2 separate regions of the Homo sapiens genome follow, and region 2 is linked to region 1. The links come from fine-mapping of genetic effects on gene expression. A gene starts in region 1. The other region holds a variant in brackets. All regions are shown on one strand. Distances are from middle to middle.

The links.
Region 2: its variant is fine-mapped to the expression of MRPL36 in whole blood (INTERVAL, PIP above 0.99).

Annotation. Positions count from the first base shown.
Region 1 is chr5:1,797,287-1,801,672 of GRCh38, forward strand. MRPL36 (mitochondrial ribosomal protein L36) reads right to left here and starts at 2,551. Exons shown (of 2, transcript NM_032479.4): 1 at 2,506-2,551; 2 at 1,099-1,661. The coding sequence starts at 1,649. The coding sequence ends at 1,338. NDUFS6 (NADH:ubiquinone oxidoreductase subunit S6) reads left to right here and starts at 4,121. Exons shown (of 4, transcript NM_004553.6): 1 at 4,121-4,263. The coding sequence starts at 4,132. RefSeq lists a silencer at 2,021-2,430 and enhancers at 3,511-3,560, 3,621-3,750, 3,930-4,386, 4,361-4,386.
Region 2 is chr5:1,775,354-1,779,739 of GRCh38, forward strand. No RefSeq gene overlaps it. Among named protein-coding and RNA genes, the nearest start is that of MRPL36, 22 kb to the right of the region's middle. The variant A/G (reference allele first, on the strand shown) is at 2,285.

The DNA of each region.
Region 1 (4,386 bases):
GCTGGTTCCCTTTTCTTTCAGGTAATAACGCTCTCCACCTTCTTCAACTGGCCAGACGCCTGCGGGCTGCAATGCCCATGTCAAGCTGCTTGCAGAGGCCCTTTGTGAGGGTGAATGGGCACAGCACAGAGTTCACAGCAACACACACCGGCGTCTGCTCCCCCTGGAGAAGTGATGTGGGTGCTGGGGAGGAGCTTTGGCCCTCATGTGGCCATGCTGCCCCCTCTGCCGCCCCACCAGGCCTTTCTGGGTGACCCTGCTGCGCCCCTGCTGCTGATCTGGGCAGGAGGGCGCTCCCCCCGCGCTAGGCTTCTTGCGTGGTCTCCTGTCTCACAAAACTCCTTTCTGGGAGAAGGGGAGGTGTCCCTGGCCAGGAGGAAAGGAGCCGTGAGAAGGCTGTCGCATCTCAGCATCTGCTCTGGGTTGGACTGTGCTCCCCACCCCCAAATTCATGTTGATGACAGTGCTCCCCCAAGGCATGGGGCTCACTCAACTATGAATCCCGATGACCAGGGAAGGACCAGCCCACTCCATCCCTCCAAGTCCTTACCAGTTGTAGGTGTGGTCATCCTCTAGCAAGGGGAGCTCCTTGCCTCCCCCTGAATCTGGGCTCACCCTAGGGACTGAAAGAGTGCGGTAGAAATGACACGCTGGAATTTCTGAGGCTGGGTCATAGGAAGCCTCGTAGCATCTGCTTGGGTCTCTCGGGACACTCTCGGGAAGCTCACTGTGGGGCAGTGCAAGCCACGCTGTGGGCCCTGCCTGAGGAGGTGCTACGTACAGCCTGAGGAGCACTGAGACCCCAGACAGGAGAGCCGGTGCCATCTTGGAAGTGGGTCCTGCAGTTAATGCCACACAGATCAGACAAACTGCTCAGCTGAGCCCATCCCAAATGCCTCACAAAATCGTGAACAATGTAAAATGGCTGATTTAAGCCACCAAGCCTTGGCTTGTACAGCGACGGGTGACCAAAACACCACTTCTTCCAAGAGGCTCTAAGCAGCCTCACGGAGACATAGAGAAGTCCTGCCCAGCCTCACCCAGCACCATCCAATCCCTACCTGCAGCCTGAGTTCAGAGAGAATGAATGAACTAAGCTATTCGGAAGGTCTATTTTAATAGGAAAATGTTTTTTAGTTGGAACGTTTTGGAAATAAGATAACGCAATGTCTTCTATAGTTACTCATTTACACTGAAACGTGATGGGTAACTTTTAGGGCGTTTGCTTCCAGTCACTTTCCCCTGACTCCTTGATGTGATAATTCCTTCCATAAGATACAACCATTCTCCCAAGTGATGCGATGACGAGTATGTGCGTGACTCTGGAGGGAAAGGGTCTACATCTGTCTCTGCTTGTGCCTCGGATGGGTTTTACAGTAGACGTACCACCGACCCCGCCTCTTCACCAGGTAACAGTCCTTGCAGCGCTTCTTAAGGACAGTCTTGTTTTTGAACCCCAGCGCAGGCAGCAGATGGGGCAGGAGGCCGGGTGAGAGAAGTGAGCGCACTGCTGCCCCGGGTTCCACAGCCACGGGGGCTGCACCTCGAATGGATCCAAATAGAAATGTGGAGAGGGCTCGAGGCTTCACCGTGTGACGACTGAGATAGAGCAGAGGGTTCACCATTTTCCTTATAAAAAGATTTGCCATGTTGTGGTGAATCTATGGGAGAGAGAAAAAAAGGAGTTATAGCTTCTCCTGCACTTCCACCTGCTCTTTAAGGCTTCCTTTTCTCTGTTTCACTGAGGCTTGGGAAGGCAGGGACCTCGGGGACTGAGGGTGTTCCCATACCAGCTGCAGCCTCGACCTGAGCTTGAACACTGCCTTAATCAGCCAAGTGTGCCAGGAGAATAAGGGGCAGTGGACGGTGGCTTCCTTCCCTTTCCCGCCTGCTGCAAGTGTAGGTGAGTGTGCAAAGCCCTGCGATGTTGAGGAGCCGCTCACTTGGCTGGGAGGGAGCTTAAACTTAGGCCGCATCCCTTTCCAAACAGACACCAGGTCAAGGACGGTTCAACTGATGAGCTCCTCCCTCCAACTCTTCCCAGACCCAGGGGCCCTCCCTCGGGCCAGTTTCGGGACAGGCCCCCGCTCCGGAAGAGCACGGAACTCTGGCACCCCGGTCGCCCGCCCCTGCTTCCCCACGCGCCCCGGCCCTTAGGGTTCAGCGGCCCCGGCTGGGAAGAGCTGGGCCTGCAGGGCCCGGAGGACACTGCGGCACCGGAGCCGGCCCTGCGCGCGGGCTGTGAGGTCGCGTTCGGGAGCCGCCAGTTCTCCCGCCCCGGGGTCGCTGGACACCCCCTCCTGTCGCCAGGTCGGGCGCCCACGGTCGGACCCGCACCCCCCAACCCTGGCCCTCTGAGACCGCCAGGCCCCGGCCCACGCTCCTCTGACCGCAGCCCACTCGGGGAGACACGCCCGAGGGTCCCAAGGTGGCCGGCCCCACCCTCTCGCAGCCCCCACTCTCAAGACACCCGGGACCCCTGACCTGAGAAGACGGCTCCCTTACCCGGCCGCACGCTCTCACCCGGCGCCGACCCCTGCGTCTGCGCACTGGCACGCGGACGCTGCTGCCAGGAAGGAAGATGGCGGCGGGGGGGGGGGTCACGTGGCGTGCCCACGTCCAGTGCGGGGCGCAGAGACGCAGCAGCGAGTGCGCAGGCGCTGGAGTGCGACGTATCACTCCCCGACTGCGCGCACTCTGCGGGCCACCGGGATCGTCGTGCTGTTTGGAGCGCTCTCGGGAAAAAAAATGCAAAAACCAGGAACGAAAATGGATATCCGCAACGAAAAAGAAATTACAACCACTTAGGCCTTAGAAAAAACTGGCAAATACCAATGTCAAAACAAACTGAGAAAGAGGACATGTTTTTAAGTGGACAGGAGAAATGTAAACAGGCTCCGGGAAACGAGTGGAGACGGGCAGTAGTTTCAACTGGTTACGGCTGTTTTCCCCAACATTATGAAAAACTTCGGACATAGAGAAAAAGGGAAAGAACTGTACGGTGAACACCCATATACTTGCCACCTAGATTCTACCCTTAGCTCGCTTATCCCTGCCTTTTCAGGTATCTACCCGTAACTCCATTCGCCTTCCTTTTTGTGTGTGTCCGGGTGAGTTGCAGACGTGGCTGCGTCCACTCCGCGCTCCCTGCAGGCCCCAACGCTTCATCGCAGCGCCCACTTTTTCCACCTGACCCGGCGAACACCGGGCGGGCCGCTGGAGTTTATCAGCTCCAGGACAAATCTGCCTCTGACCACCACGTTTGCTGGGACATCTTTGGGACCGGAGGTTTTCATGTGCATTCTTGTTTCTCATGCCTTTCCTCCTCTTTATCATCTTCCCCGCCACTCATCCATCTCTAGTGTTTTGTTCTTGGAGTCACGTGGTCCTCAGGCTCTGACCACAGCAAAAGAAAAGCTGGATGCTGGAGCTTAAGCTGGGATTTATACCCAAGTCAACTCTAAGCAAAACGGGCCTTTTTAGAGGCTGTATTTGCATGCTGTAAAATCAGTCGGTGTACTAGGCTTTGTTGCAGAAATCCCCAATATACGTTTCCTCTGCGGCTCCCCGTAACCACACACAGGAACGCTTGCCTTGAACGAGGAGAATGCACTTCCAGTCTCGTCTGCTAAGCAGTTGACTCCTTCACCCAATAATTTTGATATTTAAATGTCTCATGATTATCGGTTACCATAAGAATATAAACAATGTATTTTCAGTTTACATCCTCCCCTGCCTGTCCGCTAAATAAGAACCACTGGGTACTCCTAATCGCTGAAGGTTTCGCACACCATTGCCTGCCTCATCAGGGCCCTAGCTCTAGCCTGCGGCTGCAACTGCATGAGGCTGCACCTGCCGGCGCAACGGGGCCGCTTAACTTTTAGGCCATTGATGAAAAGTCAAACAAGCGCACAGTACTCGGTGTAATCAGGGGCATTTTTAGCGAGATACCTGGGATGAAAACGGGTGACCACCTGAATCAGAGAGCAGCTCCGGCGCACCCTCTGCCCCGACCCGCGCTCCCCGCCCCCAGGGCGAAATAAATACCGGGTGTTTGGCGCCGCCAGAAGCCGTGCGCATGCGTTAGCGCTAAGCGGGACGTTGCGCCGGGTCAAAGGCCAGCGGCGCAAAATGGCGGCGGCGATGACCTTCTGCCGGCTGCTGAACCGGTGTGGCGAGGCGGCGCGGAGCCTGCCCCTGGGCGCCAGGTGTTTCGGGGTGCGGGTCTCGCCGACCGGGGAGAAGGTCACGCACACTGGCCAGGTAACGGCCGCTGGGTACAGGATGCACCTTCCTCCAGCCGCACCTCGGGCGACTGGTGGCAGTGGGCTCGCCGGGCATCCGCGGCCCTGGTTCTGCGCCGGCAGCGCAGGTCGTGGTAAGGTT
Region 2 (4,386 bases), 22 kb before region 1:
GCAGACACGCAAAGGGTAATGAGTGATGACACGAACAATTTCATGCTGATGCATTCGACAGCTTAGATAAAATGGACAAATTCCCTGAGAGACACACATTACCAAAATAAACCCAGGCAAAAATAGAAAATTTAAATCGCCCTATATTTGTTAAAGATATTAATTCATAATTAAACTCCTTATAAAGAAAATTCCAGGCCCAAACAACTTCATTAGTAAATTCCATCTAGTGTGTAAGAAAGAAGTAACATCTATTCTATATAAACTCATAAACTAGAGGAGGAACTATCATTTCCTAAAGTATTTTATGACGTTACTATAACCAGAATTCAAAAACCAGACAAAGGCATTATAAGGTCAGAAATTGACAGACCAATAGCCTTCATAAGCATAGATGCAAAAATCACTAACAAAACATAAGCATATCAAATTCAGCAATAAGTAACAAGAATAAGATATCATGATTAAGTTGGACCACTTAATCATGATTCTAGAAAATTCCAGAAATGCAACATCTGTTTAACATAAGAGAATAAATCAATGTAGTTCACCAAATTAACTAAAGAAGAAAAATTATATTGTCATTTCAATAGATGCAAATCAATTATTTGAGAAAATATAACACCGTTTTATAACTTAAAAACTCTTAGCAAATGTTGGTAGAAAATAGTTGGTAAATTTTTCAACCTGATAAAGAGCTCTTACCGCTTCTTCTCAGTATAGTACAAGAGGTACTAGCCACTGCAGTAAGACATGAATGGGAAATGGAAGTCATATTAATCCAAAATAAAGAAGTAAAAGTGCTGAGGGAAAGAAGCTGAATGCCAACTAGTTTATACTGAATTATTCCATTTACATGAAAGTCTTGAACAGGTAAGACTAAACTTTGTTGTTGTTGGTTGTTTGTTGTTGACGAGATCAGATTCATGGGAACATGTGGGCAGTGATGGGAAAAGGTGTCGGGAGCCTGCGTCACACCTGGGGCCTGTTGAAGTGACTGAACAGCACTCCGAAGGCATGAGCACGTCCCTGTATGGAAATCATTTCTCAGTTTCCAAGAATATCCACATTGGTTTTTCTACAAATGGTGGGATTTTATTTAATCATATTTTATTGTTCAATCCTTTTTTTATTTGTAAGTTTTCTGAAATGACTATGTATTACATTGGTAAATCAAAATATTAACTAATCCAATGTAGTCCAAACAGTAAAAATACGACCTAAAATTATCTCAAGGTATAAATGCTTAGCAAAGAGTGATGTAGGGCCTAGCTCTCTTCTGAGCTATTTGATGAGCTCTTTCTAGAAGATGTTCTTACAATGAACTTGGGTAACAGAAGAAAGGATTCATAATCATAATGAAGGCCTGGGGCTGGGAGGGCATCTGGTCAATAAGAAATTGGCCCCTAAACCTCGAAGGTCCAGGCCCGAGGTTGGTCAGTTACTCCTCTCAGGTCAGCCTTGGAGGCAGCTGCCTTGTATTGGCTTCTTGACTCTTTGTTCTTCCTCTTCTCCATGTGTTTTGGGTCACAGTTCCTTTCTTCCTAAGTTTCACAAAGTCCTCACTGAGGTCTTCCTCCTGCCATGTCCTCAGTTACCTCCTGGGCTCAGCCTCGCAGGAGGAGCTCCCTCTGTTGCTGCTCCCCTGGGCATCGGGCATCTGGCATCTTCAAACACCACATGGCCTTCCAGTTCTTCTCCCATCCCCACCCACCCATGCCTCCGTGGGGAGGGCGGCAACTCTCCCAGGTCTTTGCCTCTGGAGGGCTGAGGCCCCACTCTCTTCCCAGGATTTGTGCCAATTGCTTTGGTGACACAGACACATGGGATCCCGTCTGTCCTGTCACTCCCTGTCCCCTCTCGGAGCTTCCTTTTTTTCTGACCCCTTCTGGATGCATTCAGGGCAGGACACAGTGGGCAGTGGGAGCTGCGAGGAGCCTCTGAGCACATGGAGCTGTCTCCTCCAGGACTGTCCTGAGGGGCAGTGGACACAGCCCACAGCAGACACCGGCCTTGCTGAGCAGGGAGACTAAGGACAGCAGCCTGGTGAGACCAGGAGCTCGGCTGAGAAAAGCCGCGCCCTCTCCGGGGAAAGCCCTGCGCCTCCCGTGCGGCGTCTGTTATGGTGGATGCCGCCGGCAGAGAGCGACACTGTGGACTAAGCCGTGTCCTCCAAAGTCATAGGTGAGGCCCCAGCCCCCACGGGACTGTATCTGGAGCTAGGACATTAGGGAGGGAATTAAGGTTAAATGAGGTTGTGAGGAGGGCCCTGACCCGATAGGAC[A/G]TGTCCTTGTAAGAAGAGAAATCGACACCAGGGATGCGCGTGCGCAGAGGAGTGGCCGTGGGAGGACACGGGAGAAGCCACAGTCTGTAGGCCATGAAGAAGCCTCGGGAGAAACCGCCCAGTGGCCCCTTGGTCTTGAACTCCCGGCCCCCAGACTGGGAGGGAACAGTTTCTGGTGTTGAAGCCCCGGCCCGTGGTACTTTGTTACAACTGCCTGAGCCAACAAGGCCAGATGAAGAGGAAGGACAGCAGTGTGCCAGGTGTGTGTGGGCCTTGCACAGCCGGGGAGGCTCTGGTGTCAGGAGGTCCTGTCTTCAGCCTGGCTGGGTAGTGCTGGTGAGTCAGCTGACATCCGGGGCTCTGTGTTCATTGTCTACCTTGTGGGCAGCAAAGCAGATGACCCTCCTGCATTGAAGCCCCCTGGGCCTCTGGTCACCCAGAAGTCAGAGTCGGGAGACACACACCTGCTGTCCATACCTGCTGCCCTGGTGCGACTGCAAAGAAAGGCAGAGACCCAGGGGCATCGGCTATGGCACCAGGATGCAAAACACCAAGTGCCTCTCCCTCCCTGGGAACACTGGCAAAGGTGCAGCGAGCCACAGCCTGGCGTGAAGATGAGGGTTGGTCTGGGCCGTGCTTGCCTGAGCAGCCCAGGGTTTCCTGTGCCCTCCAGCTGAAAGCTGGGGGCCTGTGGGGTGACCCAGGCTGCAACGGTCACAATGAGGGCAGCACTGGCTGTCACTGTCTGTCCCAAGCAAGCCCTTTGTCTCTGAGAGGGCAGGGTGCATGTGTGTGCATGTGTGTTACGGGCACCTTCCCAGCAGGAAAGCGACATGCCAGCTCCCCTCACCCCCCTCGGGGGGCCAGTTTCCACGGTCTCAGCTTGGTTGGGGGTATGGGCGCTCCCTTGCCCTAACCCCTGGGGGAGCCCATTTTCCCAGACACAAGGACAAATCAGGCCGGCTCAGCTGGGGACAGCCAATTTCCTGCATTTATTTGTTTCTCCCGAAAGAAGGCTTCTGTTTGGTTCTAATGAGTAGCTTTTCCTAAAGAGAAACAATAATAACAGCAGAAACGTAAGTGGATTCTGTAAACTTGTAATCATACGTGTCAAACACAGTGTGGTATTTTCCCCCGCAAAATAGAAATGGTGGGAAGTCATACAGAGTGGGTGCGGGAAATTGTGTTTTCTCTGACAGAAGTTAATTCTAAACTAAGTATTCCCTGAAAGGAAAGCAGGGAAACATTTTTACATGTCTATCATTCGTCCTTAGAGGACACAAAACAAATATGTTTTTTAATGCTTGACACCAGCATTATTCCGGGTGGCCTCGGGCTATATGCTGTTTTCCAGTTTGTAGAATTGGAGGAGAGGAAAACAGCCCTGCATTAAGAGGAACATATTGTACAGGTTAATCATAAGCACGCAGAAATCAGAGTGCTGCCAGCCGGCAGGACGGAAGGCCTGGGCGCCAGGAGTTGCGGGAAGGCAAGGAGGCGGAGGTGGCAGCAACGAGGGGCCAGACCAGGGTCACTGCCCCGGTGGCAAACGCTTGTGGATGTGCCATGGGCTGGAGCTCTTTTGGGTCCCTCTCCATCAGGAAGCCGCCCTTCACAGGTCTCCCAACAATGCTTACGTGCAGAAGGAAGCTCCTTGGAAAGCCGAGGGTCATTTAATCAGAGTCCATTCCCCAAGAAGTCCCCGTCGAGGAGCACTTAGGCAGTCAGGTCCTGAGAGGCAGACGGCACCATCAGGGCCAAGGCACCGGGGCTGTCCCAGATCCTCCTGCGAATGTGGTGGGAATTACGACTGCTCCGCAAAGTGAGCCCAGACGCACACATTGCATAAAAGCGTAGCGGCCGCAGGGCCGAGGTTCCGGAGGGCACTTGTTGCTTCGGGGTGTGTGTGGCCCCACCTCGGGGTCTCTTATCCAGCTTGGCCTTCGGTCACTCCCACCTCAGCCTCTCCCGCTGGGAGGCAGGCCCATGTGCGCCCTTTCGGTGGGGCGTGGAAGTCTTGCTTTGGTAGGAGGCAGCCCTACCTGGGATTTCCACTTCGAGGTTCCTTCTTTTCCATGGGATTAGGAGTGCTTCATCGCTGA